Regions from separate parts of the Homo sapiens genome. Here all the other regions are linked to region 3. The links come from fine-mapping of genetic effects on gene expression. A gene starts in region 3. Each other region holds a variant in brackets. All regions are shown on one strand. Distances are from middle to middle. Region 1 overlaps PACS2 (phosphofurin acidic cluster sorting protein 2). Region 2 overlaps BRF1 (BRF1 general transcription factor IIIB subunit). Region 3 holds the start of BTBD6 (BTB domain containing 6).

What was found. PIP is the estimated chance that this variant, and not a neighbour inherited with it, causes the effect.
Region 1: its variant is the best candidate, but not a certain one, in a credible set for the expression of BTBD6 in whole blood (TOPMed, PIP 0.89).
Region 2: its variant is the best candidate, but not a certain one, in a credible set for the expression of BTBD6 in whole blood (TOPMed, PIP 0.61).

What each region holds. Positions count from the first base shown.
Region 1 is chr14:105,316,853-105,327,876 of GRCh38, forward strand. The region is part of intron 1 of PACS2 (phosphofurin acidic cluster sorting protein 2); the gene reads left to right. Among named protein-coding and RNA genes, the nearest start is that of PACS2, 7.6 kb to the left of the region's middle. RefSeq lists an enhancer at 6,068-6,577. The variant C/T (reference allele first, on the strand shown) is at 5,887.
Region 2 is chr14:105,285,321-105,293,919 of GRCh38, forward strand. BRF1 (BRF1 general transcription factor IIIB subunit) reads right to left here. Exons shown (of 18, transcript NM_001519.4): 2 at 976-1,056. Among named protein-coding and RNA genes, the nearest start is that of BRF1, 11 kb to the right of the region's middle. RefSeq lists enhancers at 603-1,501, 7,753-7,902, 8,053-8,172. The variant A/C (reference allele first, on the strand shown) is at 2,828.
Region 3 is chr14:105,244,098-105,255,121 of GRCh38, forward strand. It overlaps BTBD6 (BTB domain containing 6), which reads left to right and starts at 4,436. Exons shown (of 4, transcript NM_001387567.1): 1 at 4,436-4,988; 2 at 5,060-5,150; 3 at 5,263-5,381; 4 at 5,543-6,996. The coding sequence starts at 4,615. The coding sequence ends at 6,575. BRF1 (BRF1 general transcription factor IIIB subunit) reads right to left here. Exons shown (of 18, transcript NM_001519.4): 5 at 8,410-8,482. RefSeq lists enhancers at 4,062-4,852, 5,644-6,433 and silencers at 4,228-4,787, 4,988-5,037.

The DNA of each region.
Region 1 (11,024 bases), 73 kb after region 3:
TTCTGTTGGTGTGGAGTTAATGGGCGGAGGAGTTAATGGGCGGAGGGGCGAGTGGCGCAGCTGACCAGGTGGGCAGATGCAGTTTGTTCGTAGGACATGCTCAGCCTCATAATGAGCTCCTGCCCTTACCTGTCCTGGAACAGGGCCCCTCATAGGCGGGCTTGCCCCTAGCTTTGCTTTGTGCTTGTGCCGCCTGTCCGTGCATCCTCGGACAGTCTGCTACTTAGTTTTGCTTTGTTCCTCCTGAGTTCTTCTGTACTCCTCACTTTTGCCCAGCCATGAAGCTTCTGGGCTGCGTGTGTGCTGATGCCTTTCGGCGTGTTCACTGCTGCGTACTATTCACTGGCGTGACAGTACCTCGGCTTTGCTTCTGTCAAGGGACCTTGGCTTGTTTCCAGTTTTTTGGTTAATTACAAGCCCCGTGCTGCTGTGGACATCGTGTGCCAGTCTTCTGCGTGTGTCTTTCTGGATGGGCAGGGCCTGTCTTAAGCATGTACCGCCAGCTACCAGGATTTATGGTGGGGGTGTGCACGCACTCAGCGTTACTGCTGGGCAGTTTTCCAGAGTGGTTGTGCCTGCTCCGGCCCCCACTGACAGGGACGAGAGTCCCCACTGCTCCACATTTGTGCCAACACTCATTTGACTTAATTTTTGCCAGTCTGGTGGGTGTGAAGTGGTATCGTGGTTTTAACTTGAATTTCTCTGATTACTAATTTAGGCCATTTGTACTTCCTTGTCAGTGAAATTCCTGTTCCTTTGCCAGTTTTTTTTTCTCTTTTTTTCTGCTTGAGTTTCAGCAGTTTCTTTAGAGATAGTCATCCTTTCTCGGCTGTGTTGAGGATGTCCCCGTCCAGTTATGAGCGAGTCTTTGCTCTCTGAGCAGCCTCTGGGTGCACTCCCCGTGTCAGCCTGGTGGAGTGTGCACATTGACTGTTTGCCAGGCTGGGGTGCTGGTCTCGTTTCGGTTCTCCTTCTGGGAGGCAGCCGGAGAAGTCTGCCCCCGGGAGCTTGAACTGGGCATGCTGGGCTGTTGTTGGGGAGGCCTGTGCTCCGGGTTTCCTTGCGACGCTTTTGGCTCAGCACTGTTACACACGGTGCTCCTAGGTGGTCCACGGGGTATGCGTCAGTGCCTGTCTGTGGCCTCTGCCTCCTGGGTTCCCAGAGTGTCCTCCTGGTGCCCATGTCCCTGAGCGCCCCCACCTGCTCTTCAGCAAGGGCTGGGCTGCTTTGTACCTTGCCCTTCCCACTTGATTGTTTTTTCGGTTGATGTTTATTAATTTGTTTTTATTTATGTATTTTGTTGTTGTTGTTGCAGAGACAGGGTCTCCCTATGTTGCCCAGACTGGTCTTGAACTCCTGGGCTCAAGTGATCCTCTCACCTCGGCCTCCCGAAGTGCTGAGATTACAGGTATGAGCCCCTGGGCCTGGCCATCTGTTTGGTTTTTAGAGACAGAGCCTCACTTTGTGGCCCAGACTGGGGTGCAGTGGCTTGATCATGGCTCATTGTAACCCCTAAAACCTGGGCTCAAGCAGTCCTCCCACATCAGCTTCCTGAGCAGCTGGGACTACAGGTGTACACCACCATGTCTGTCTAATTTTTTTGTTTTGTTTTGTTTTTTTGAGACAGAGTCTCACTCTGTCACCAGGCTGGAGTGCAGTGGTGCAATCTCGGCTCACTGCAACCTCCGCCTCCCTGTTTCGATTTTCCTGCCTCAGCCTCCCAAGTAGCTAGGACTACAGGCGCCTGCCAGCATGCCCGGCTAATTTTTGTATTTTTATTTTATTTATTTATTTATTTATTTTTATTTTATTTTATTTTATTTTGAGATGGAGTCTCGCTCTGTCACCCAGGCTGGAGTGCAGTGGTGCTGTCTCGGCTCACTGCAAGCTCCGCCTCCTGGGTTCACACCATTCTCCTGCCTCAGCCTCCCGAGTAGCTGGGACTACAGGCGCCCGCCACCACGCCCGGCTAATTTTTTTTATATTTTTAGTAGAGATGGGGTTTCACCGTGTTAGCCAGGATGGTCTCAATTTTCTGACCTCGTGATCCGCCCGCCTCAGCCTCCCAAAGTGTTGGGATTACAGGCGTGAGCCACCACGCCCTGCCTATTTTATTTTTTTGAGAAGCTCTGTCGCCCAGGCTGGAGTGCAGTGGCACGATCTCAGCTCACTACAACCTCCACTTCCCGGGTTCAAGCAATTCTCCTGCCTCAGCCTCCTGAGTAGTTGGGACTACAGGCGTGCACCACCACGCCCAGCTAATTTCTGTATTTTTAGTAGAGACAGGGTTTCACCATGTTGGCCAGGATGGTCTCGATCTCTTGACCTCGTGATCCGCCCGCCTTGGCCTCTGAAAGTGCTGGGATTACAGGCGTGAGCCACCACGCCCAGCCAGAATTATCTTTTTAAGTTTCACACAAAGCCACATTTGGTTTATAATTGGAAGTTCTTTAACTCTGTAGAGCAGGTTGGGGAGAATTGACGTTTGTGTGGTACTGAGTCTTCTCATTCATGATCAAGCTATTTACTTAGGTCTTGAATGTATTTTGAGAGTTTTACAAGATTCTGCTGTCATGCATATCCTTTGTTACATTTATTCCTAGATGCTTGTATTTTAGAAGTCATAGTAAAAGTCAGCTTTTTATTATGTTTGTTGCTAACATATAGAAATTCAGTTGATTTTTCAAAGAAATCAGTGATTTTACTATTTTTAACCTAGTAACTTATCTATAGATTATTTTGTATTTTCAAAATGTATGTTTTGTCTTTTGCAAAAGACAAAGTTGTTTCTTTTCAATCCTCATACTTTTCTTTCTTTCTCTTGCCTGACTGTGCCAGTTGTCATAGTACAGTGTTGAATATGGTTGGTTGCGTGGATTACCCGTGTTCTGTCTTGACCTTAAGGAAGGTTTCCAGTGTTTTACCTTTAAGGACGATGTTTGCTGCAACTTTTTGTGGATAGCCTTTATGCACTTAAAAAGTCTCATCCTATTCATGACTTGCAAAGGCTTTTTAAAGAAATCATTATGAGTGGATGTTGAATATAATCAAGTACTTTCATTAAGAGGATTATATAATTTTTATCTTTTCATTACTATTGTGGTAAATTACATAAATTGATTTTATTTCTTTTCTTTTCTTTTTGAGACAGAGTCTCGCTCTGTTACCAGGCTGGAGTGCAGTGGCGTGATCTCAGCTCACTGCAACCTCTGCCTCCCAGGTTCAAGCAATTCCCCTGCCTCAGCCTCCCAAGTAGCTGGGACTACAGGTGTGCACCACCACGCCCAGCGAATTTTTGTATTTTTAGTAGAGACGGGGTTTCACCGTGTTGGCCAGGAGGGTCTCGATCTCCTGACCTTGTTATCCGTCCACCTCAGCCTCCCAAAGTGCTGGGATTACAGGCGTGAGCCACCATGCCTGGCCGTAAATTGATTTTCTAACATTAACCTATTCCTGGAAAAATACTAGTTTAAGCATGTTGTATTACCCTTTTTAAAAATTGGTGGATATATATTTATTTATGTATTTATTTTTTGAGACAGGGTCTTGCTCTTTTGCCTAGGCTGGAGTGCAGTGGTGTGACCATGGCTCAAGCAATCCTCCTGCCTCAGCCTCCTGAGTAGCTGAGACTACAGGTGCATGCCACTGGCCTGGCTAATTTTAAATTTTTTGTAGAGATGGGGTCTCACTATGTTGCTCAGGCTGGTCTCCAACTCCTGGCCTCAAGTGATCCTCTCACCTTGGCCTCTCAAAGAGCTGGGACTCCAGGTGTGAGCCTCCCTACCTGCCCACATTGGTGGGTTTAGATGATAGTATCTTGTTTAGGACTTCTGCATGTGTGTCTGGGGTCTATGTGCTTCCTTTCTTCTGTAGTCCTTAGCAGATTTTGGCGCTAAGATTTCCTTGTGAAATGAAATGAGTACTGCCTCTTTTGCTGTATCGTGGTATAGCTTATGTAAAATTGGAATCATTTCTTCCTTGAATGTTTGGGATAATTCACTTATAAAATAACCTGACTGGCCGGGCCTGGTGGTTCACACCTGTAATCCCAGCACTTTGGGAGGCTGAGGTGGGTGGATTACCGGAGGTTAGGAGTTCGAGACCAGCCTGGGCAACGTAGTGAAATCCCATCTCTACTAAACATACAAAAATTAGCCAGGCGTGGTGGCACGCACCTGTAATTCCAGCTACTCAGGAGGCTGAAGCAGGAGAATCACTTGAACTTGGGAGGCGGAGGTTGCAGTGAGCCCAGATGGCGCCACTGCAAAAACATTTTTTTTTGAACCTGCTTTCTGGGTCAGTGTGTCAATTTTAATGCACGTTCTGTTTATACTTAAAAGGAATGTGTGTTTGGCAGTTGATGGTGCAGTGTTTGTCTATTAGATCAAGCTTGGTTTACTGTGGTCTTCAAGTCCGTTCCCTTTTTTTGTCTACTAGAAATGTATGTTAAAATCTTATAATCTGAGAATAGATTGGTCCGGGTTTTCTAACAGTTCTGTCAGTTTCTGTTTGATACTTTTTTTTTTTCCAGACAGGATCTCACTCTGTCACCTAGGCTGGAGTGTAGTGGGACGATCACAGCTCACTGTAGCCTTGAACTCCCAGGCTTAATCGATCCTCCCACCTCAGCTTCCCGAGTAGCTGGGACTACAGGTGTGCACCACCACACCTGGCTAAATTTTGTATTTTTTGTAGAGACTGGGTTTTTCCATGTTGCTCGGGCTGATCTTGAATTCTTGGGCTCAAGCAGTCTACCTGCCTCAGCCTCCCAAAGTGCTGGGATTATAGGCATGAACCACTAACGCCCCGTCACTTAATATATTTTTGAGGCTATGTTATTAGGTACATACATGTTTAGAATTGTAATTCTAGGTATTTTGAACTTTTCTCATTGTATGACTGCTTTTATATCTAGTAATGCTTTTTGTCTTTAGTATTGACTTTGATGCAAGCATTCTTTTGGATAATTTTTGCCTGTTAGCTATTTTTCTATCCTTTTTAAAAACCTTTGTATATCCTTACATATTAGATGTGTCTTTGGTTATTCAGCATGTATCTAGATTTCATTTTCATTCACTCTGACCTTTTCTGACTTTTTTTTTTTTGAGACAGAGTCTCGCTGTGTCGCCAGGCTGGAGTACAGTCGTGCAATCTTGGCTCACTGCAACCTCTCCTCCCGGGTTCAAGCGATTCTCCTGCCTCAGCCTCCCGAGTAGCTGGGACTACAGGCGCCTGCCACCACGCCCAGTTAATTTTTGTATTTTTAGTAGAGACGGGGTTTCACCATGTTGGCCAGGCTGGTCTCGAACTCTCGACCTCGTGATCCGCCCGCCTTGGCCTCCCAAAGTGCTGGGATTACAGGCTGAGCCTCTGTGCCCGGCCTTTTTTTATTTTTATTTTTTATTTTTTGAGACGGAGTCTCTCTCTTTTGAGATGGAGTCTTGCTCTGTTGCCCAGGGTGGAATGCAGTGGCGCAATCTTGGCTCACTGCAACCTCCACCTCCCAGGTCAAGTGATTCTTGTGCCTCAGCCTCCCGAGTAGCTGGAACTACAGGTGCGCGCCACCGCACCCGGCTCATTTTTTTGTATTTTTAGTAGAGACGGGGTTTCACCATGTTGGCCAGACTGGTCTCGAACTCCTGACCTCAAATGATCTGCCCGCCTCGGCCTCCCAAAGTGCTGGGATTACAGGCATAAGCCACCACGCCCAGCCTACCCTGTACATTTTAATGTGCATAGTTAATTGTATCTTTACTCTCCTGCTGAACTATGCAGGGACCTTAGCCCACTTTATTCTAATCCAACCCTTTCATGTTTATATTTATATGATTTTGTTACTGTGTATCTTAATTGTTTTCTTGTGAAGCCCACAAGATGTTGTTACTG[C/T]TTTATACTGTGATATTTGATGAGCTTCAAAACTCACCACTTCCTTTGTTGCTCATTCTTCTTGCATGTCAGGAATCATTTTCCTTCTTCTGTTGAATATTTGTTCTTAGGATTTCCTTTAGTGAGGATCTGCTGATAACTACCTTCTCTTTCTGTTTGTCTGAAGATGTTTTAGTTTACCCTCACCCTGAGCAGGGCGTGTGCTGGTTGTACGATGCTGGGGTGGTGTGTGCTCCTCCCACAGGTCCAGGCAGGGCGTCCCTGGCTTTGACTTCCAGCTTTGCTGTAAGAGGTCAGCGGCCGTGACAGGCTGGAGGGAGACGTCTGGGTGGCTTTGTGGTCATGTCATCGTTGCCAACGGTCGTCTCATGGTGGGTCCTGGTGTGGGTTCTCTTGTGATTGCCTGAGTCGGGGTTACTAGACTTGCTGACTTTGTGGATCGATGATTTTCATGAGTCCCGGGAAGCTCTCAGCCACTTTTTCTTCTGCTGTTGGTTCTGCGCTATTCTCTCTCTCACCTCTGGAGCAACAATTGGACGTGTTGCTCTTCCTGCCGGATCCTCCACATCCATAGATGCACTGGGTGGTGTCAGTGGGCGGCGGCTGGCTGGGGCAGTAGCCTGTCTCCAGCCCTTCCCCCTGCCTCTGTCCACGTGCAGGGGCGTCTCCTCAGGACGCATGTTGCCTACTGACCGCTGCCAGCCTGCACGAGACTCTCACGGCGGGACCCTGTCTGCCTTGCTCGGTGCTGCCCAGAGCCTGCACAGTGTAGCTCCTTGGCGGACGTTCCTGTAATGGAACCAGGATGTCATGCCAAGGAGTGTGGTTTCATTTTGAGTGGTGGGGAAGTCGCTGGACTATTTCAAGTGTGTGTATTTGGGAGAGCAGTGCTGCTGGAGTGGTGGACCACACTGGAGGTGGAGATTGCCTCAGGGTGTGCAGGTGGAGATGGGTGGGAGGTGTCGTGCAGGGCTTGGGACAGGGCTTTCGGAGGTGGTCTGCAGTGATCCAGGGAAGATGGGCTGCTCTGAGGGAGGGGCTGAGGAAGCTGACCTGGGCAGCCAGTGGCCTGTAGGCTGGGCAGCACTCGAGCTGGGGCCAAGGGGCAGCAGGACGGTGCCCGTAGCCCTGGAGGCCTTGGGGATTCGGAGGACCTGGCCCATCGCCGTGGCCTGCACGGTGCGTGCACACCGCTCTGTCCGCGCAGGCTGTGCCCTGCTTTCAAGATGCCTGGAAACCTCTGGCAGCTCTGTCCTGCTGTCAACACTGGAGTCACATGTCAGTGGGTCTCCTGCTGGGGACTGGCTTTTGTGCAGGAGATGGAGGGCAGGGGGCTACAGTGCCCTTGGACTAAAGGATGCTTTCCTTGGATCTGGGCACTAGAACCAGCCCTTTCCCTCTCTCTGCCCAGCATTCTCAGCATGCGTCTCAGGAAGGTTTGATGGAGTGGGCAGCTGCGGTGCTGTGGCGGGGTCGGGGGGCTGCTGCAGAGAGCGGGTCTGCGGTCAGTCACAGTGACGGGGGTCTCTTTGGACCCTGTGACTTGTGTGTGGTGGTGGCAGGCAGTGGCGTTGCCGAGACAGGGTGCTCAGGTGCAGGTGGGAAGGGGTGGCAGGATGGAGGTTGTACAGTGCTTTCCCCAGGACCAGGGGGCAGGGTGTGGCGTGCTTATTCCTGCCTGGCCGTGGAGGGTCTCTGTAGGACAGGCTCCCGCTGAGGGCAGCCCTGAGGCCTGTGAGCTGCTGGCCCCGCAGGGTGGCTGGGCCTGGCTGGCTCAGCAGCTGCTCTGAGAGGCAGCCCTAAAAATAGCCGAGCGCTGAGAGGCCGTCCCTTTCTGCTCCGCAGGCGCGCGCCGATGTGTGCTCAGCTCAGGCCGACTTAGCAGGGTTGTGAGAGTGATGAGAGCGTGGCTGCTGGTCATGGTGCTGGGGTCGTCAGCAGCTCCTCGAGGGCTCCGGCCTGTGGAGGCCGGTGGCGCCCCGTCTCACCCCACGGATGGGGGGCAGGCTCTCCAGGAGCCCCAGGGAGCACTGGCTACTGCTGGGCTGCTCTCAGGCCCGGGACATTCATGGCCGTAGCCCCAGGTCCTCTGCATGGTCAGGGGCCATGCTGGGTCCCCTGGGGTGCAGATGCCGCTCAACAGAGGAGTCAGGACCCAAAAGGGGCAGAAATGGGCAAGGGAAGACACTGGGGAAGGGGTGGGTCTGCCCTTCCTGCTGGGGGTGCACACGGGCCTGGGGCTGAGCAACCCGCTCTGGGCCTGGCTGTTCCGCTCCACTGCCCCAACCAGCCTTTCCTCAGCACCCCCTGGCCAAGCTGTGGGCACCCCCTGCCCCCGGACACAGGCAGCACCTGGCCAAGTGCAGAGACACTCCAGCTGGCTCTTCGCCTGTGTCCCAGCCCTGAGGGCACCGTCGTAGGGTGGTGGGACGGGGGGGGGCTCGGACACAGTGGTTGTGGAGGGGTCAGTGCTGTGGCTCGGGGTGGGGTGGGGCTGGGGGAGGGTTTGCTTCAGGGTAGCGGCTCTCTTCAGGGGTTCAGCAAGGAGACAGATGGGTTCTAATGACCCCTGAGTCCTGAGACAAGGTGGGGTGAGCTGGAGCAGGGGAGGGGACTTGGAAGGGCCTTCAGTCCCCATGCAGCCCTTGCACAACCTTTCGGGCCAACATCCTGGGCCTTGCTTGGCAGAGGAGTTTGGGATCCACGGGCTTGAGGCCCAGGTGGTCAGCTCGCTCGGTGCAATGCTGTGTCTCGCATTTCTGTCTCTCGACTGCCCCATCCAGCCCGTGTCCTAAGAGCAGCTGGCAGCAGCCGCCACGCACAGGCAGCTCAGCTCAGCAGCCCCAGGAGCCAGGTGTGTCTTGAGCTGGGCAGCAAAGTGGCCATGCAGTCCAGCCTCCCTTCAGCCTTCCCCAGGATGCCTTTCATCTTGGGGAGATGGCCATTGTGGGGGTGACCAGCACTGTCCCTTCCCTGGCAGGCCAGGATGTGGATCCACAGCGAGGCAGACCTGCAGATGCACATCCCTCTTCTCAAATGCTGTTCTTGTTCTGGTGAGCACGGGGAACGGCACCAAGCCAATGCTGATGGGAAGGGCCCTGACCTTGGGCTGCTGTCCTGCGAGCTTGGCCCCTCTGCTGGGCCCCTCCTCCATGCCTTTGTTTACTCTCCAACCTTCTGGGAGTCCCACATCTGCATCAGGACAGAGGTGACCAGGGACCAGTTGACAGCTAGGATGCCACCAGCATCTTTTGTTTAATTTGAGTCTCATTTCCCAGTGTAATTCTGTAGCTGACCTTGCAGGAGGCATTGACAATATTTCTTTATTGTATGGCCCCAGCCAGGACTTCCCTCTTTTTAGATGCAAAATAATTGGGCAAGACTTTTCATGGGCATTGCATGCTGGGCTCGTGCAGGTGTCTCCAGGGCCGCCTCGAGACCAGCGCCCGCCTCCCTGGTCCTGGATACAGGTGGGGCGGGGGCTCCCCCGCAGCAGTGGAGTTGAGACCCGCACCTGCTTCCTGGTCCTGGACACGGGTGGGGCGGGGGCTCCGCAGCAGCAGTGGAGTTGAGGCTTCCGTATGAGCTCGCTCCTGGTCAGTTTGAGGGTGGACATACCAGACATCCTGCATCTTCCCAGTCGCCCCAGGAGCGCCTCAGGAGGGTGAGTGGCAGGAGGCCGATGCCCTGCTAGCAGGCAGTCCCTCGGGGCCAGGCCTTCCTGGTGCGGTGCTGAATTGGGCTGTTCGTTCCTCTGAGCACCAAGGAGAGGGATGGCGGCTCAGGCTTCAGGCAGTGCCCGCCGGTGCCTCTAGAAGGTGCTCCGTGGTGGGGCCCGGGAGGGTGGCCCTTCCACATTCTCGGGCTGCCTGTGTGCCACCCAAGTGTCAGGTCATGAGGCCCCTCGGTCTGGCCTAGGGCTCTCCTTCCTCCCCCACCTCAAGCCTGGGGTGTGGCCTAGCCAGGGAGGGGAGCGGGAGCTCTGGCCGTGAAGACCCACCCTGAGGTCTGGGCTCTCCTGGCCTGAGCGTGCTTTCTGCTATGAGCTCCACGTTCACCCTGCGGCCAGGACTCTACTGTTCCTCCTGGTGGGAGCTGCTGTGGTGCCCTGGGTGGCCTCCAGTCACCGCCAGCCTGCCCCTTGCAGTCAGTCCTGCTGTTCCTTCGGCTCCTGCAGTTTCCAGCTTGGCCCTGGACTTCCTGTTTTTCCCACCTAGCTGGACGTAAAGGTTGTCGCGCCTTGGAAAGTTAAGTCACTACACCCGAATCGACGCACTCTTGGCTCGCCTGGCTATGGCTTCAGCTGGAAACGGAGCTGAGCGTGGCTTATGTTTATAAATACAGCACCTATCAGGTCCAGCGTCGCTGTCTCCTGCGGGAGGTGTCAGCTTTGGGCGTGAAGAACAGCTGCAAGGCCACAGGGCCAAGGGGTATCTCACCAGCTGGGAGGCCGGCGTGCCTGACCTGGCCACACAGAGCGAGCCTCAGAAGCGAGGGGGAAGGAGGGCAGGCCTTGGGGAGGGGTCCAGGAAGGTCGAGAGGCTGCAGTGGTGGTAGCCTGAGGGGATGTGCGCGGCCAGGTCAGTGCCTGCCGCTACTGCCTGCTGCGCTGACTGCCTGAGCACTGGGGATCGTGGGCCTGAGGGGCGGGGACCTTGGCTCCCGTGGATAGCTCCTGCACCATCCTCTTGCTTCTCAGACCCTCGGCAAGTGGTGACAGGGGGCTGGGGTGGAGTTGTTCTCCTGCCGTGGTCCTGTCAAATGGTGCTGGGGGCGGGGCCAGGAATCACAGCAGGTGTCTGCCGCTAGCGCTCGGAGCCTGTGCTGGGGGCAGGGTGGTGCATCTCATGCCTCTGCCGCTTGCTCACTGTACTTGCCTGGGGAGGATGTGGCAGGGGCAGAGGACAGCTGGCCAGGCTCTTGGACTGCACCTGACTCTGGTGGGCTATCGAAGGTTTTGGAGGTTTCTTTAATTAGCAACATGATATCCAGAGATTGCGACTGTGGCTCGAGCGGTTCCCTGCCAGGGAGCAGGACCATTGACAGCCGAGCCTTGACTCACCGGCCCAGGCCACCCGAGGGGCCATTGACAACTGAGCCTTGGCTCACCGGCCCAGGCCACCCGATGGACCATTGAC
Region 2 (8,599 bases), 40 kb after region 3:
GTCACTAAGCCAAACTGAGGATCCAGAAATGAGCTTTTAGGTTTACGGTCAATCGATTTTCAGCAAGGGCACCAAGAGGATGCCAACTGGCAAAATACAGTGTTTTCAACACATGGTCCTGAGAAAACTGGGTCTGCACGTGCAGGAGTGAAGGCAGGCCCTTACCTTACATCACATGCAAACGCTGACTCAATATGGACCAAAACCTACTGGAAAGAGAGGAAGGCGCAAAACTCCAAAAAATCATAAGCACAAATCTTCACGATTTGGACTGGATTAGGCAACATTTGTTAGTTATGATACCAAAAGCACAGCCATCAAGAGACTAAATAGGTAAACTGGATACTATCAGAATTTAAAACTTTCATGCTCCAAAGGATACCAGCGAAAAATAAAAAGACAAAAGAAAATGAAAAGAACGCATGAAATGGCTGAAAATGTCCTATAAATCACACATCCGATAAAAGACTTGTACCTAAAACACATAAAATCACACATCCGATAAACGACTTGCACCTAAAATATATAAAATCACACATCCGATAAAAGACTTGTACCTAAAACACATAAAGAACTTTTTCAACTCAATCATAAGACAAATAACCCAGCAGACATTTCTCCAGTTTGTGGTGAACTGGCACTTTGACAAAACGCAGTGAGAATGTCACTACAATATCCAACTGCTATAAATGTGTTATTTCTGCCTCCATCTCACTGAGGCCATCAAGCAATGGCTGTGGATCCTGTGGGATCCACTGGGTTCTCCCCAAACAGCCCTGGCAGAGTCTGCAGGACACCCAGGAGGGGACTCAGGGCACAATTCCTCCTGGAAAGCAGCCTGGGCTGGGCGTGCAGGGTGACGAGGAAGTGGCAGGCCATGAGGTCCATGGCTGAGTCAGTGCCCTCCACCCTAGCACCACCATCCCCATCTCTGGGACCCGCCGCACGCTCAGCAGCATCCGCGGTGGGAAATACCATTCTGCAGGGTCTGCGCTCTCGACTCCTTCCCCAGATTCACGTGGAAGCCGCCACCCAGAGTCGGGGTTTTGCCAGCACCTGGAAACACAAAAAAAGACAGATCAGCCAAAACTTGGAGATCTGCATTTACAACCCTTTCCTAACATCCACAGACACAAAGTGAGAACAAAGCGGGGGTCAGCACTCATGGGGGAAGCAGCAGGTCGGCCCCCCGCACCTCCGTCACTGAGCCAGGAACCCCAGTGGGGGAAGCATCTCTCACTCTGCCCAGCCAGCAGGGTTGAGGGTGGGCCAACTGCACTTTCCGCATTTTCTTTTTTTTTTTGAGACGGAGTCTCCCTCTGTTGCCCAGGCTGGAGTGCAGTGGTCCCATCTCCACTCACTGCAAGCTCCGCCTCCTGGGTTCACGCCATTCTCCTGCCTCAGCCTTCCAAGTAGCTGGGACTATAGGTGCCCGCCACCACGCCCGGCTGGGATTACAGGCACTTTCTGCATTTTCTAACCATGTCCCTAACACACTGCAAGTCCAGAGTGGACGCTGTCAAATGGCTGCCGGGCGAGAACACAGATGTACCTCCAAACCTCTGCAAGTGGTGCACACACAGCATGGGCTGGCCGTCCCCCTTGCCCCAGGCCAGCCCACTCAGATATCACTCCTGCATGGTGACCACATGTGAACACATCCACCTCCCTGCTGGACTGCAGGGGACGCAGGTACCATCCCATGTGCCCCAAGGCACTGCAACCAGCCAGTCTGCAGAAGGCCCCCACGCCTCAGTCCACCCACCCATGGGGAGGCTGCAGCTGAACCTGCTGGACACTCTACTCCGAAGCTCTGCCAACTGACAGCATGCCTACGACGTCCACCACATTCTGCCCTGCAGGGCTTCGGGGTTAAGACCTGGCCCTGGTACCTCTGGAAACATCAGGTGGACATTTGGATTGTTCACCAGGTTCACCAGCCCGATCGCTGCAGCCTGATCTCCCAATGAGCATGGTGGACATGTGGATTGTTCACCAGGTTCACCAACCCAAACGCTGCGGCCTGATCTTCCAACGAGAACAGTAAGGTGAGGCCCCAGGCATGCCCAAAGATGGGGAGAGCTGGAAAGTGCCCCCCGCCCCGCAGCGTCGGCCCTCAGTGGTTGGCACAGGGGCCAGTGCATTTGTGACAAAGCACAGACACAGGACTGGAGGCTGCTGCAATCGGGACGCGCAGACAACCTTGGCCACTTGGGGGAAGGCAAGTGTGTAGGGCCTGTCGGAGGACACTGGAAGGATAGGATGCAGAAGCAGAAAGCCAATCGCTGGAGCCTGGGGCCAGGCCCTCCAGGGAAACCATGAGGCAGGGACCTCAGCGTCATCCAGGGGCAGCCACCAGCACAGACAAGGCAGAACAGGCACGGCCTCTGGCTTCACAATGAATGTAACTGAATCCCAAACAAATACTAACAACACTCTTTAAAGACTCCAGTAAAATGATTCTAAAGTTCAGTTGGAAGCAAAAAGGAATTAGAGCAGCCAAGAAAAGTTTTGAAGAGAGCAAGGGGCAGCTACTGGGCCCGTCCGGAAACTCAGAGCTGAACAGGGTCAGGTGGCACTCAGCTTTTCCTGGTGGCAGCAGAGGCAAAGCCCGGGCCTCCTTCAGGCTGAGGCCCAGAGCCGGCCTCCTGGTGGGTAACGTGGCCACAGGGGTGGCCGGCAGCAGCAGCAGGGCACCAGCACTGAGCACAGGCCTCCAACAAAGGTGGTGCCGGGACGGGGGCAGTGCCTGGAGACTACCTAGGTTGTCACAACTGGGATCTATGTACTAGTTTTCTGTGGCTGCCATAAAAATTGCCACAAACCT[A/C]GTGGCTTTCAAGAAGCTGTAGAAGGTCCGGGCGCGGTGGCTCACGCTTGTAATCCCGGCACTTTGGGAGGCCGAGGTGGGTGGATCACGAGGTCAGGAGATCGAGACCATCTTGGCGAACATGGTGAAACTCTGTCTCTACTAAAAATACAAAATTAGCCAGGCGTGGTGGCGGGTGCCTGTGATCCCAGCTACTCAGGAGGCTGAGGCAGGAGAATCGCTTGAACCCAGGAGGTGGAGGTTGCAGTGAGCAGAGATGGTGCCACTGCACTCCAGCCTGGGTGACAGAGCAAGACTCCGTCTCAAAAAAATAAAAATAAAAATAAAAATAAAATAAAGTAAAAAAGAAGCTGGAGTGGTGGCCGGGCATGGTGGCTCACACCTGTGGTCCCAACACTTTGGGAGGCCGGAGCAGGAAGATCGCCCAACCCAGGAGTTCAATACCAGCCTGGGCAACACGGGGAGACCCATTTCTTTCTTTCTTTCTTTCTTTTTTTTTTTTTTGAAACAGAGTTTCGCTCTGTCACCCAGGCTGGAGTGCAGTGGCGTGATCTTGGCTCACTGCAAGCTCTGCCTCCTGGGTTCATGCCATTCTCCTGCCTCAGCCTCCCGAGTAGCTGGGACTACAGGTGCCTGCAACCACGCCCGGCTAATTTTTTGTGTTTTTAGTAGAGACGGGGTTTCACTGTGTTAGCCAGGATGGGGGGAGACCCATTTCTACAAAAAAAAACTGAAAAAAATTAGCTGGGTGTGGTGGCACCTGCTTGTGGTCCTACTACTCAGGAGGCTGAGGTTGGAGGATCACTAGAGCCCGGGAGGTCGAGGCTGCAATGAGCTGAGATCGTGCCACTGCACTCCAGCCTGGGTGACAGAGCAAGACCCTGTCTCAAAAAAAAAAAAAAAAAGAAGCTAGAACAGGCCAGGCATAGTGGCTCACATCTGTAATCACAGCACTTTGAGAGGCTGAGGCAGGAAGACTGCTTGAGCCCAGGAGTTCAAGACCAGCCTGGACAACATAGCAAGATCCCATCTCTACAAAAAAAAAATGAGCGGGGTATGGTAGGGCATGCCTGTGGTCCCAGCTACTCAGGTGGCTGAGGCAGGCAGATCGTTTGAGTCCAGAAGGTGGAGGCTGCAGTGAGCTGTGATGCACCTCTGCACTCCAGCCTGAGCAACACGGTGAGAACCTGTCTGAACAAATAATAAACTAAACAGAAGCTGGAGCAGGTCGCAGTGGTGTCTCCTTGTGGGGGCTGGAGAGGACCTGGCAGGGCCACAGTGAGGTGCCTGCTGATATGAGAATCCAGAAGAGAGGCCAGGGAGAAACGCAGGACTCAGGAGAGACCCATCCTGGAATAAGGGGGCTTTGAGCAGCACTGATGAGCCAATTCTAAATTCTGCAGAAATCTGGCCCAGGCCTCCCCAGGCTGAGCTCCAGGTGCCTGCAACTCCGACCCTCCCTCAGAGTTCTTTGTTTTGTGAGCAGTGTGTATTCTTTTTTTTTTTGAGACGGAGTCTCGCTCTATCGCCCAGGCTGGAGTGTAGTGGTGCGATCTCGGCTCACTGCAACCTCCGCCTCCCGGATTCAAGCAATTCTCCTGCTTCAGCCTCCTGAGTAGCTGGAACTACAGGTGCGTGCCACCACGCCCAGCTGATTTTTGTATTTTTACTAGAGATGAGGTTTCACCACGTTGGCCAGGCTGGCCTTGAATTCCCGACCTCAAGTGATCCACCCACCTCGGCCTCCCAAAGTGCTGGGATTACAGGCGTGAGCCACCACGCCCCGCCTGTTTTTTCTAAGCGTTCGAATTAAGATCACCATTCTGTGTAGCCCCTGGCATGCTGGTCTCCAGCACATGCTCCCTCACCAACTTTCACTTTAGAAAAAGAAAAATCTCACTATATTCTAATTAGTGTATATAATGCTTTTAATAAATAACTCATATAACACTACATTAGAAAAAGGACAATGATCAAAGTATAAAAAGCCAGCTGGGTGCAGTGGCTCACGCCTATAACCCCAGCACTTTGGGAGGCCGATGCGGTTGGATCACCTGAGGTTGGGAGTTCGAGACCAGCCTAACCAACAAGGAGAAACCCCGTGTCTACTAAAAATATGAAATTACCCAGGCATGGTGGCACATGCCTGTAATCCCAGCTACTCAGGAGGCTGAAGCGGGAGAATCACTTGAACCTGGGAGGCAGAGGTTGTGGTGAGCCGAGATCGCGCCATTGCACTCCAGCCTGGGCAACAAGAGCGAAACTCCATCTCAAAAACAAATAAATAAAAAGCCCCTGAAGCCCCACCTTCCAAGAACAGGGGACGCCGTACAGCCTCCATTATAGCCACGTTTCCCTGCCTAGGTACAGTGGGCTGCAGGCGTGCTTCTGACAGAACAGGGCCACAGTGAGATGCCACGTTAAATTACAGTGATGATTTCGATTCTGGTTGTGTTTTACGCAATCTCTTCACTCCTTGACCCATACCCATCAGCTTGCACCACAGCACACTGCAAAGCTGCATGCGTCAGCAGCTCCACGCTCCACCTGCCACCTCTGCCCTCCCTCCTCCATCACTCTGTCTTGCACCCTCCAGCCTCCCATACCCTCCTCACACCCCAGGACCTCTGTTTCCTGTCCCTGTGTTGTTCTCCCTGTCCCCCAACACCACAGTCACCCTCCCTGGGGCCACGCTGCTGCACCTGCTCTGGAAGCGCCTCCTGGCTTCTGCTTGCCTCACACCCTGGTGCGTGCACACTTGCAGGCACACACACACAGGACACATGTGGACAGTGTGAAACCTCAGAACACTAACCCACAGGGAGGATGAAAGAGGAAAGTGCCACCTCTGGCTGAAACTGCCAGGATGCCCTCTACTTCTAAAAACATTTGGTATTTTCCATAGCGTGTTTCTATAACAAAAAATATGTGCTAGTTCCCGTTAGCTGGAACTGACATGTGGAAGGGGCCAGGTCTTGTGGGGCCTGGCCAAGACTGCCCCCCTGTGTACAGCAAGGGAGGACCTGCGGTTCCACCAGAGCCAGAGCAGGGCCAGAGGCCGCAGGGGCACCTCTGAGCTCCGACAAAGCCAGCAACACCCCATACCGCCGAACAGACAGAAAGGCGGGCCAGGGGCCCTCCATGTCCTGAAAGACCCAGCACAGCACTGTCCATTTCACACCAGGATTCTTCCAACATGAGAAAGCAATAACCTTTAATATTCACGTGCTCATTCAACTTAACTGGGGGCGGGCTCAGTGGCTCATGACAGTAATCTCGGCATTTTGGGAGGCCGATGTGGGTGGGTCACTTGAGGTCAGAAGTTCAAGACCAGCCTGGCCAACAGGGCGAAACCCCGTCTCTACTAAAACATACAAAAAAAAAATTAGCCAGGCATGGTGGTGTGCTCCTGTAGTCCCAGCTACTCGGGAGGCTGAGGCAGGAGAACTGCTTGAACCCAGGAGATGGAGGTTGCAGTGAGCCAAGACTCTGTCAAAAAAAAATTTTTTTTTAACTGGAGACTTTCTGTTGCTGCTGTGAAACTTCCTTTTTTTAAGAGACAGGGTCTGGCCGGGCGTGGTGGCTCACGCCTGTAATCCCAGCACCTTCGGAGGCCAAGGCGGGTGGATCACCTGAGGTCAGGAGTTTGAGACCAGCCTGGCCAACATGGCGAAACCCCGTCTCTACTAAAAACACAAAAATTAGCCGGGCATGGTGGCACATGCCTGTAATACCAGCTACTTGGGAGGCTGAGGCAGGAAAATCGCTTGAACCCGGGAGGCGGAGGCTGCAGTGAGATGAGATTGCGCCATTGCACTCCAGCCTGGGCAACAAGAGAGACACTCCATCTCAAAAAGAAAAAAAAAGAAGTCTCACTCTGTCACCCAGGCTAAAGCGCAGGGGCACCATCACGGCTCACTGCAGCCTCAACCTCTCGGACTCAAGGAATCCTCCCACCTCAGCCTCCCAAATAGGCGGGACCACAGACATGCGCCACCACGCCTAGCTAATGTTTTCTTATTTTTTGTTTTCTTTGTTTGTTTTTTTGAAGACAAGACAGAGTTTCGCTCCTGTCGCCCAGGCTGGAGTGTAATGGCACGATCTTGGCTCACTGCAACCTCCACCTCCCGGGTTCAAGCGATTCTCATGCCTCAGTCTCCCAAGTAGCTGGGATTACAGGCGCCCACCACCATGCCCAGCTAATTTTTGTATTTTGGGGTTTTTTCTTGTTTTGTTTTTTTAGTTTTTGTAGAGACAGTTTCACTATGTTGCCCACGCTGGTCTCAAACTCTTGACCTCAAGTGATCCTCCCACCTTGGTTTCCCAAAATCCTGGGATTACAAGCATGAGCTACCAAACCTGACTGGAAACTTCTTTTAAGGGGAGACACCTGTAGGAGGCCTGGCTGGCTGGGCAGTAATGGATGGAGAGGAATTCAGGGGTCCCACAGGTGAGTGCCCAAAGGAGGCTGGACCAGACCGCAGTGCATCCCTGAGAGCTGGGGACGGGGACCCGGGAACACAGAGCGTGTGCCTACTGGTGGGGCTGGATGCAGTAGCATCAGACATCTGGGAGGAGCACTGACAAACAGGGCCAAGCACGGCAGCCCACACCCCTTCCCAGGCGCAGACCCTTCCCATGCGCACACCCCTTCCCAGGCACAGACCCTTCCCAGGAGCAACCCTTTCCCAGGCCCACACCCCTTCCCCAGGCCCACATCCCCTCCCCAGGTCCAGACCCCTTCCCAAGCCCAGGCCCCTTCCCCAGGCCACTGCGGAGGAGCTGGTTTTGTAGTGATTACAATTTGGTTACGGAAAACAGGACGTGTGTCACGCTGCAGGCTAACCAGCAGCTTCCTCCCTCACCCAGATGGCAACGGGACAGAATTCACCCGTTTCCTAAGAGCAGGCACCTTCAGCCACAACTTAGGGTTCTGGGGGTCATGGAGCAGAGGCAGAAGCCTGGAGCCTTCCACCCTCAGGACTAGAGCCCCGCCAGGAGGCCAGGCGCATGCTCAGAACCCCAGGCCGCAGGGAGAGGCTGGCCGGTCACATCCTTCTCTGAGGCAGAGGGAGCTTCCCAGCAGGCGAGGGCAACTCCACCACCCATGTCCCCCTCCAGGGCCAGCGCCAGGTGACATGCAGCCATGTCACAAATTAGGTCCGGCTGCATCGTGACCCCAAACGGAAAACAGCAGCACTCACGGACACCCCAGCTTCGAAGTTCTAACTGTGAAGCCACTGAAAGTTGTGATTACGGGAAACGCTCCCCACCCCCACAAGTTCTGGTGACACTGAGGTGTGCTGCTCCTTGCACAGGACGAGGAGGGACCCCTGCAAGCAGGAGCCCAGGATGTCTGGTGTGTGGGCGCCATCACCATCACCTGCTGGCAGAGGGAAGCCTCAGGGCACACACAGTGCAGGACACTGATGTGGGCTCACAGGGAAGCCCCGCCTTGCCTCAGTGGAGCAGACGGCCTCCTCAGGGCACTGCCAACGGCCCCCAACTCCACCGTCTGCCTGGCCCCTCCAGCCACGCTGAGCCTCAGTCCTCACCCACCCTTCTCTCTGCACAGTCTCTGCTCGGGTGCCCCGGGACGCTGGAGCACCAGTGTGGTTTCCCCCGTGGGGCCTGGCTTCCAAGGTCAGGACCCTCTGGGGACTCTCCTGAGGCCTCTGGTCACCTGCCCTGATGCCTTAGTTAAATATTCCAGAGTAAACTGCGAAGCTGTATCAGGCTTAGTTCTCAATTAATAGGCAAAACACCTAGGAA
Region 3 (11,024 bases):
CGGGAGTTCGAGGTCAGCCTGGGAAACACAGCAAGACCCCATCTCTTAAAACAAAAATCTGGGGCCGGATGCAGTGGCTCACACCTGTGAGTCCCAGAACTTTGGGAGGCCAAGGCAGGAGGATCGCTTGAGCCCAGGAGTTTGAAACCAGCCTAGGCAATATAGTGAGACCCCCATCTTTACAAAAAATGAAAAATTTAGCCTAGTGTAGTGATGCATACCTGTTGTCTCAGCTACTTGGGAGGCTGAGGTGGGAGGATTGCTTGAGTCCAGGAGGTCGGGGCTGCATTGAGCCATGACCTTGCCACTGCATTCTAGCCTAGGTGACTGACACCATGTCTCAAAACAAAAAACAAAAAAGACAAGCAAAAAGTGTTTTTTTCAAGACAAATCTGTCAGTGACTAGGGTGGAGGAGGAAGTGGTGGGCAGCGGCGGCACGGTGGGCAAACGCGGAGTGGCAGAGCGGCACGGGACAGGCATGGCATTTCATCATGGAAAGGAACCCATGTCAAGCAGCCTGGAATCTGCAGGCGCACAGCGACAGAGGAAGAATTAAATGAAGGAAAAACACTGGAAACAACCTTCAAAACCACAATAATAGGGGATTTTAACATGGTTCTCTGAAATTTGACAGACTGATTAGGAAAAAAAAGACTAAGGGACGACTTAAGACACATCACCATAGACTCAATCTGACAAGGATGTTCTAAATTCTGTACCCCATGGAGTCATCATGCTTCTCCAGTGTCTGTGGGACAGTTATGAAAATGACCAGGTATGATAGAACAAAGAAACCCTCAATATATTTCAGGTAACAGCACATAGGACATGCCATTTGACCCCAAGTGCAAAAAAAAAAAAACTAAAAATGAGCAAAAACAAGTAGTCCCCTCACCTCCAAACGCTGTTAGAAATTAAAGTTCAATCCTTCAGGTAACTTTATTAACTCAAGCGCTTTGTGTATTTAAGGCAGCAATGGGTCAGGCGTGGTGGCTCACACCTGTAATCCTAGCACTTTGGGAGGCCGAGGCAGGTGGATTGCCTGAGCTCAGAAGTTTGAAACCAGCCCGGGCAACACAGCGAAACCCCGTCTCTACTAAAAAATACAAAAAATTAGCCGGGCATGGTGGCAAGTGCCTGTAATCCCAGCTACTCAGGAGACTGAGACAGGAGAATCACTTGAACCTGGGAGGTGGAGGTTGCAGTGAGCTGAGATCGTGCCACTGCACTCCAGCCTGAGTGACAGAGCAAGACTCCATCTCAAAAAAAATAAATAAATAAATAAAGGAAGCAATGAAATTAATGAACTAAAATAACAGAAAACTAAAAATTAACAAAATTAATTATTTAAAGTAGGCAAAGGGACTAATAAGAAAAAGAAGCAAATAAATTACCACTGTCAAGAAAAGAATTAAAAAGTCCAACAGCCAGTATGGTGCTGACATAAAGACAGACCTACAGACCAACAGAACAGAACAGGACAGGACAGGACAGGACAGGACAGCACAGGGCCAGAAATGACAATGACAGACAGATGACCTTCAACAAGGGTGACAAGAACTTCTTGCACAATGGGGAAAGGATGGTCTCTTCAATATGCAGCGCTGGGAAAACTGGATATCCACTTGCAAATAAAGATAGACCCTTACCTTACATCATACACAAAAACTAACTCAAAACCGATGCAAGACCCAAACACAGACTTGAAACTGTAAAACCCTTAGAAGAAAACAAAGGGAAAGACTTCACGACATTGGTCTTGGCAATGATTTCTTGAACATGACACCAACAGCAAGGGCAACGAAAGTAAAAATAGACAAATGGGATGACCTCAAACTAAAAAGTTTCTGCACAGCAAAGGAATCTATTAACAGAAATGATATCCTATAGAATGGAAGAGACTATGTGCAAACCATCTATCTCATAAGGGGTTAACAGCCTGAATATACAAAAAACTCCAACTCAGGAACAAAATCGATTAAAAATGGGCAAACTGCACTTTTGTAATCCCAGCTCTTTGGGAGGCTGAGGCACAAGAATCGCTTGAACCTGGAAGGCGGATGTTGCAGTGCACCCTCACCACCGCACTCCAGCCTGGGCAACGGAGTAAGACTCTGTCTCAAAAAAAAAAGGCAAAGCCCTTGAACAGACGTTTCTCCAAACACGCCATGCAAATAGCCAACAAGCACATGAGTAGATGGTCAACATCATTATTTATCAGGGACATGCAAATCAAAACCACATGACACTACCTCATGTCCATTAGGATGACCATTATCACAAACAAAAAAGAATAGGCTGGGCGCGGTGGCTCACACCTGTAATCCCAGCACTTTGGGAGGCCTAGGCAGGTAGATCACTTGAGGCCAGGAGTTTAAGACCAGCCTGGTCAACGGAGTCTCGCTCTGTCATCCAGGCTGGAGTGCAGTAGCATGATCTCAGCTCACTGCAACCTCCGCCTCCCTGGTTCGAGCCATTCTCCTTCCTTGGCCTCCCGAATAGCTGGGATTACAGGTGCCCGTTAATTTTTGTATTTTTAGTAGAGATGGGGTTTCACCATGTTGGCCAGGCTGGTCTCAAACTCCTGACCTCAAGTGATCCGCCCACCTTGGCCTCCCAAAGTGCTGGGATTACAGGCGTGAGCCACCGCGCCCAACCTACACTGTAACATATTTAAAAATCAAAGTGCAAAGGGTGGTTTCTTTCTAAGGATGAAAATTATTATTCACATGCTCCACACCACCATGCAGATCAAGACGCTGACTACCTCTGGCGGCTCAGCAATTCTATCCTGGCACCCCCGGAGACAGCTGTCGCCCAGGTCTTGTGTGCTGCTGTAAGTTATTCCTTCTCACTGCATTCCCCAAATGGACCCACCACAACCTGCTGATCCTTTCTGTTGCTGATGGACATGTAGGCTGTCTCCACTCTGGCCATTTGTATTTCTCCTGGAAACTGCTTATGCCCGTTACCTTTTTCTATGGAAACAGACGGCTGGGACAGAAACCACGGCCACAGCAGCCAGCGTGTCTTTGCCAGTGGGGTCCCACACTATGAAATCGCAGCTGTGGCCTCGGTGGGTGTGTCCTTGGCGGGTGCATCCACACACTTTCTCTCGGAACTTTCCGGACTCTCATGCATATGCTACAGCTTTCCAAACGGCTTGGCCGTGCGGAGTTACGCACCCACCTGCAGCAGGTGATCTCCAGCTGCTCTGCATTCCACCAACACTACGTGACAAGTCTCAAGTTCAGCCGCCTGGGGGCTCGGGCACCCCATTCCTGGGAGAAATGATGATTTGTGCACTCTGGGCCATTGCATGGTGTCTGTTCACGTCCTTTGCCCGTTTTTTAAAAAACTGGGTTGTCAGCCTTTTCCTTCCTGACTTGTAGTTGCTCCTCCATCCTGGAGAGTCCTTTGTTGAAAATACCGCAAATATCTTCTGAAGAGGACTCTCCCAGGGAACATTCACTACAACTGTAACGACCACAGAGACACAGAGCTCCTGTTCACTGTTTAGCCCAGGACTGCGGTGACAGGTGCACCCATGACCCGAGATGCTGGCTGCGTCCTGTGGGGTTTCCTGCATATGGAAGTTTTAAAAGTCTAAAGCCTGGCGGTCCAGGAGGTTGCGTGTGTGTCCTCGGGGAGGAACCCTCCTGACAGCCAGGCCTCTGGAGCTTCGTCTGCACGCGAGCTTGGCATGCACCAGCTGTGCGGCCCAGGCCAGGTGACACGGCCTCTGAAGTCTGGTCTCCTCATCAGCAAAGCCAGTGCCCCATGCCACGCACCTCCCAGGATTAGCCCCAGGCCGGGAGGCTAGAGGCCCCACAAGGAGCGAGCCTGCGACTGCGATCCACAGGCAGAGCCACAGAGGCAGGGCGCGCCCTGGGGCCCAAGCTCCAGGGCTGCAGGCCCAGGGCCAGATCCTGACTTGCCCACCCGCCGGCTGTGTGACCTTCAGCGCGCGACTAACCTCTCTGTGCCTATTTCCTCGAGGAAAATGCCGGGAAATAGCAGCGCCTGCCCCTGTAAAGCCCTCAGAGCAGAGTGGACCGCGCTCTCTGCAAGCGCTGGCTGCTGGCGTCCGTAGCAAGCTAAATCGCGAAGCATCTGAACGAACGAGGAAGCCCAACGACCATCCCACAGGCCGCGGCCAGAGGCAGACTCCGGAATGCAAATGGCCAAACAAGCAGGTCCACCTGCGTTCCTAACCAAAAGATCGCTAACTGAAGAACGGGCGCAAGCACCTGCGCATGGCACTGCGGGTCTGGGGGCGGCCGCCTGCCAGCGCCGGGAGCCGCCTTCCACGGCTACCTCTGCACAGCGCGCGGCTCGCGCCGGTTGCTGGGCAGAAGCTCGAGCAGCTTCGAGGATGTCGGGCCTGGGGGCGGGGCCGCGAGGCAGCGACGTCGCGCGGGGCGCGGCCCTGACGCAGCGTGACGCACCGGCGCCGCGGCGGGTACGGGCTCGGGCGGGCGGGCGGGCGGGACGGCGCCCCCCGCGGCCGGGCCTGGCCGGGCTGCGCTAGGCTGGGCTCGGGCAGGGTCGCAGGGGCGGGGGTGGCAGGGGAGCGGGTGGCAGCCCCGCGGGTCACAGCGCCGCCGCCGCCCATGCTGCTGCCCCTAGCCTGCCTGCACGGCCGCGTCGCTCAGTGCCTGACCTCCTTGCTTTTGCTTGCAGAGCCGCTCCCGAGGCCCCGGCGCGGCGCGAGGGCGCGGGGCGCGGCGTCCACAGGCGCCGAGGCTGCCCCCGCCGCCCCGCCCGCGAAGATGGCGGCGGAACTCTACGCTCCCGCCAGCGCCGCGGCCGCGGACCTAGCCAACAGCAACGCCGGCGCCGCCGTGGGCAGGAAGGCCGGGCCGCGCAGCCCGCCCAGCGCCCCCGCGCCAGCGCCGCCGCCGCCCGCGCCCGCGCCGCCCACACTCGGCAACAACCACCAGGAGAGCCCCGGCTGGCGGTGCTGCCGCCCCACGCTGCGCGAGAGGTGAGCCCGTGCCCCGCGGCCCCCGCGCCCGCGCGCGCCCACGCCCCCAGCCCGTGCCTCTACCTTTGCAGGAACGCGCTCATGTTCAACAACGAGCTCATGGCCGACGTGCACTTCGTCGTGGGGCCCCCGGGGGCGACCAGGACGGTGCCCGCCCACAAGGTGGGTAGCGGCGGCCCCTCTCGGAACGCGTGCCCCGTCCGCCCCGTCCGCCGTGTGGCTGACACGCAGCCTGCGGGAGAGCCAGGCTCACGGCGGCGCTTTCTCCTCCCAGTACGTCTTGGCTGTCGGCAGCTCCGTCTTCTATGCCATGTTCTACGGAGACCTGGCGGAAGTCAAATCTGAAATTCACATTCCAGACGTGGAGCCCGCAGCCTTTCTGATCCTCTTAAAGTAAGTCCACTCTACTGGGGAGGGACGGGTGGGTCCGTTTTAGGCGGCCTCCGGAGGCTTCTGAAGGGAAGCACACAGGAGCTGATGGACTCCTCTCCCAGGCCCAGCCCCGCGATGGGTGCTTGGGAGCCAGCCCCTGACGCGGGCCCTGCCTCGCCTAGGTACATGTACAGTGATGAGATCGATCTGGAAGCCGACACGGTGCTGGCCACTCTGTACGCTGCTAAGAAGTACATCGTCCCAGCATTGGCAAAAGCCTGTGTCAACTTTCTGGAGACAAGTTTGGAAGCCAAGAACGCCTGCGTCCTGCTGTCCCAGAGCCGGCTGTTTGAGGAGCCCGAGCTGACGCAGCGCTGCTGGGAGGTCATTGACGCACAGGCCGAGATGGCCCTACGGTCCGAAGGCTTCTGTGAGATAGACCGGCAGACGCTGGAGATCATTGTCACTCGGGAGGCCCTCAACACCAAAGAGGCGGTGGTCTTCGAGGCCGTCCTGAACTGGGCCGAGGCGGAGTGCAAGAGGCAGGGGCTGCCAATCACCCCACGAAACAAGAGGCATGTTCTGGGGCGAGCCCTCTATCTGGTCCGAATTCCAACCATGACCCTAGAGGAGTTTGCCAACGGCGCTGCCCAGTCAGACATCCTGACTCTGGAGGAGACCCACAGCATCTTCCTGTGGTACACGGCCACCAACAAGCCCCGCCTGGACTTTCCCCTGACCAAGAGGAAGGGCCTCGCCCCGCAGAGGTGCCACCGATTCCAGTCTTCTGCCTACCGCAGCAACCAGTGGCGGTACCGCGGGCGCTGCGACAGCATCCAGTTTGCAGTGGACAGAAGGGTATTTATTGCAGGGCTGGGCCTGTATGGCTCCAGCTCTGGGAAGGCTGAGTACAGCGTGAAGATTGAGCTCAAGCGGCTCGGGGTGGTTCTGGCTCAGAACTTGACCAAGTTCATGTCAGACGGATCCAGTAACACCTTCCCGGTCTGGTTTGAACACCCGGTCCAGGTTGAACAAGACACCTTCTACACGGCCAGTGCCGTCCTGGACGGCAGCGAACTCAGCTACTTTGGGCAGGAGGGGATGACGGAAGTGCAGTGTGGAAAGGTGGCCTTCCAGTTCCAGTGCTCCTCGGACAGCACCAACGGGACTGGGGTCCAGGGTGGGCAGATCCCTGAGCTCATTTTCTATGCCTGAGGTGCCCGGGGAGGCTGCAGCAGGTCAGCGAGTGAGTGGAGGGGAAGTCAAGATGCTAACTGCTTCTTGACACCATGAAAGGCTGCTCTTAACTTTGTCTCTCTTTGACATGTAGTCAGCTGAAGCTTGACTGTGTAGAGACATTTTCCACACAGCCAGAACCCAGGGATTGGAGTCTTAGGCATCTCTGGTACAGTGGGGTGCACGTCTCAGGTGGAGGAAGATTTACGGCTCAAGACAGGCCCCAGATCCCCTCCCAGTGGCACCCATGCCACCTGCTTTGAGGGGTTGGATCTTCCTGCTACCCTCTTGGATTCTAAGTGGTTCCAAGCTTAACTTGAGACCTTCCCTTCAAATCTAAAATTGGCAAAAAGTCACTTAAAATAGTGGACTTCTGTAATAAAGGTTGCCTAAAATAACACCCACGTGTCAGTAAATGACTACAGCAGTTGTACAGTGGGGTATTCTCTTTCTCATGCAACAGAACAGCTCCCTCCCATCCCGAGGAGAAAACCTGTCATGCTGAACATGCTATGTGGTTAGGAGCAAACTGCGCCCCAGTGAAGCCCATCTGTCCCCTGGGTTGCTGGCTGGCTTCTGGGCCACCCTAGGAAACACCAGGTGCCTGGTTGTCTCTATGTCCTAATGCATCACTAGCACCTCAGAGTCCTACCCTATGAACAGACTGTCGGGGGAGCATTCTGCTGGGCCCAGCGTTCTGGACCCTGGGGACTGTCACTAGCTGTGACACTGCTGCGGGACAGCCTGTTGCAGGAGTGGACTATAGGGTGAAACAGGCTCTCCCACCCCTTGTCTCTCTCCTCCCACTCTGCATACCCTGTAGGCAGTTGTTTTCTGGAAAACCTGTATGACCCCCGAAAAGAGGGATGGCCCCTCTTGGCACCTGGGAGAGGGCATGGGCCGAGTGTATAGCCTCAGCCGGTGCCCCTCTGCTGCTGCAGCCCGTGTTGCTCAGTCCTGTTGGTGACCCAGCCCCACCTGGTGCTTCTCTACCCAAAGGACATACGCTCCTAGATGCAAACAGGCAAAGTAAGAAAGGGGCCTCTAAGCGGGCCATGGAAACCAGTCATCTGCTTGGTAAAGAAAGGGTAGGTCAGAACCATCGGGCAGTGAGTGCTGTTTTGATCCTTTCCTTCTAGACTTTTCCGCTAGGTTAGATTCTGCATGCATGAACACTGCTGCTGCCTCGAGGGAGAGACAGGACTTACCCTACACCTAACACACATCAAGAAAGGCATACAGGAGTTCCACAAACTCGCACACAACACAGAACAAAAGTGGCAGAAAAACCACAAAAGAGGGCTGTGGCTGGAAAGCACAACCAGGAGCTGCCCCACTGTCCCCATCTGTCCAGAGGCACCTGGAGCCAGGTGTGTCCCTTAAACCTTGTCCACACAAGATGCTCCCAGCACGCAGCACTTGTTTCCCTGTCTACACCTTCCTGCCACCTGACAGGCACTGACAACAGGCCTTCTGGTTTTGCAGCAGAAAGCAAGCCCCAGGCCAGGTGCGGTCTCATGCCTGTAATCCCAGTGCTTTGGGAGGCGAAGGCACGAGGATCACTTGAGGCCAGGAGTTTGAGGCTGCAGTGAGCTACGATTGTGCCACTGCACTCCAGCCTGGACAACAGCGAGACTGTGTCTTAGAAAATAAGGCCCCACATTACTGAGCTCCTAGCAGCTTTAAGAAACATTTCTTACCTTGAGGGGTCCCATGCTTGGACAGGATTTCCCTCCACTGTTCAAAGGACATTTGGCACGCTGGTCCCTACAGCAGCCTGCCGGACACCCCAGCATCTCACCCAGATGCCTACCTATGGCCGGCGCATTGATGCAGAGCTCTCTTGCCAAGAGAAGAAACGTCTTTCCAAGCACGTACACATTCACCTGAGATGGAGAGATCACAACCAGAAACAGCATTGGTATTTAAGGAAATGTTTGCTTTTTTTCTCTTAAAATGCATCTCTTGTGCAGTCTTTAAAGACTCCGATGGCCCGTGGAGCAGCCACCCCACACCCGCAAGCCTGGCTGGCCTCCCTTGGCTGCTGGGGCTCCCAGGGCCCTGCCTTCTTCCTCTAAGCCGCTGCTTTAGGCCGTGCTGCCGTCTCGCCAATGATGGCATCTGCTTAGAAGAAAACCTGACTGCAAGGTTCCTCCCAGGGCGTCATCACACGGTGCACGCAGCATTTCATTCACAACTGCACACCCATGAACACAAAACCAGTTCTGTCCACATGTGCTCCCACCAGCCACACCTCCAGCCCAGATTCCGATGGGCCCAGGGGTCTTGGCCTCAGCCCCCTTGCTGGGACTGAGATCTGTGTTCCTCAGTGACTCCCCTGCCCCCCACACTGTTCCTACCTTAGGTCCAAATCCACACAGATCCTGTCACCCCTGCCTCGGCTATCTGCCATAGGGCAGTGGAGGTGAGGCCCAGACCGAGAAGGGCAACGCCGAGGGCTGGCAGTGATGGGAGCACCGCTGCTTGTCCTCAGCAAAACAAGGACTCTAGCCTGTGTGCAGACCCTGTGCACAGCCCTGCCGTGGGCCGAGTACCCCTAAGGAGCCCTGCTGGCTGGGGGAGGACACTTCAGAGCAATGTCTGCTGGCAGGTGTGGATGAGGTGCACAGCGGGAATAGCCTGGTCCCTACTGGAGCCTGCAAGAGCCCTGCCCACACTTGGCTGTCTTCATCCCAGGCTTGCCCCTGGGGCCCCCGGGCCTCACAGGCTTGGCCAGTCTGACCCTCTGCCACTAGCCTCCCCCAAAGAATTCCCTCGCCTGACCAAGCCCGGCTCGTGGGCCCTTAGACAAGTCCCCTTGTCCTGGCCCGCCAGTGGCACTTCCAGGTGCTTGCTGACTCCAGGGTACTGGGAGACCTAAGGGACCGCACACAAAGGGTCCTGTCTGCGCTAGAGGCAAGAGACAGAGGCAAGAGCCAGAGGCAGCGCTTGTGGGGGATGCCTCTGATCAGGGACCCTGCCCGCTGGGAGGGCTGGGCCCCCACAGCAGCTCCTCCTGGTCACCATCCACCCCAGTGGGGCGCAGCTTCCATCTTCTCCATTATATCCGAGGGCTCCATCACAAGGGCTGGTGGCTCACAGAGTGTGCCTTCTGAAGGAATTTCCCCTCCTCACAGTTTCTGGGGGTTCCAGGGATCCCTGGGGTCTGCTCACCAAACTGGGGGGCGTGTCAGCACATGTAGTGTGTGTGTGCATCCGCATGCAGTGTGCAGACATGCATGTGTGTACACACGCATACAGTGTGTCTAGGTGTGACTCACGCATGTCATGTATGAGTGCCCCAGCCCCTGTGCTGGGTTCCTGCCAGGCCCCTGCATCTTGATCGTCCTGATCCCACCATCTCTCTTTAAGCCACAGCAGAACCATGATCTGCTGCTGGCCTCTGCCTGCCCACCTCAAACTCCACACCCCCCAACCTTGTGTCCCAGAGACACAGGGATCAATGAGACCTGAACACTGCAAGTGAGGAATCTCCAAAGGGCCTTTACATGGAAACTCACGTTTAAAAAGCCATGTGTGCAAAACGCGTGCAGTTTTTTTGTTTTAGTTTGTTTGTTTTTGAGACGGAGTCTTGCTCTGTCGCCCAGGCTGGAGTGCAGTGGTGCAATCTCTGCTCACTGCAAGCTCTGCCTCCCGGGTTCACGTCATTCTCCTGCCTCAGCCTCCTGAGTAGTCAGGACTACAGGCGCCCACCACCACGCCCAGCTAATTTTTTTGTGTTTTTAGTAGAGATGGAGTTTCACCGCGTTAGACAGGATGGTCTCGATCTCCAGACCTCCTGATCTGCCCGCCTCGGCCTCCCAAAGTGCTGGGATTACAGGAGTGAGCCACCGCACCTGGCCGCAGTTTTTTGTTTGTTTTCTTGAGACAGAGTTTCACTCTTGTTGCCCAGGCTGGAGTGCAATGGCGCAATCGTGACTCACTGCAACCTCCACCTCAAGGGTTCAAGCGATTCTCCTGTCTCACCCTCCTAAGTAGCTGGGATTATAGGCATCCGCCACAACGCTCAGCTAATTTTTGTATTTTTAGTAGAGACGGGGTTTCACCATGTTGGCCAGGCTGGTCTTGAACTCCTGACCTCAGGTGATCTGCCTGCCTCAGCCTCCCAAAGTGCGGGGATTACAGGTGTGAGCCACCGCGCCCGGCCTAAATACATGCAGTTCTTTACAGAGTTGCTACCATGTATGAGGACCATTTATTGGAAATTCTCTTGCTAACAGTCTAACTGTGGCTGCTCCTTGAGGGCAGGTCAGGGTGGGGCACAGCCAGCTGCCCCCCCCATCTCTCTTCCTGGGCAGCAGGTGGATTCTGCCTGCAGACTGCCCTCGTGGGTGTCTGATGAGCTGTGTGCCCAGGCCAGTGAACAACCTGGGTCTGCCCTAAGGCAGGGATCAAGAGGGAGACTCC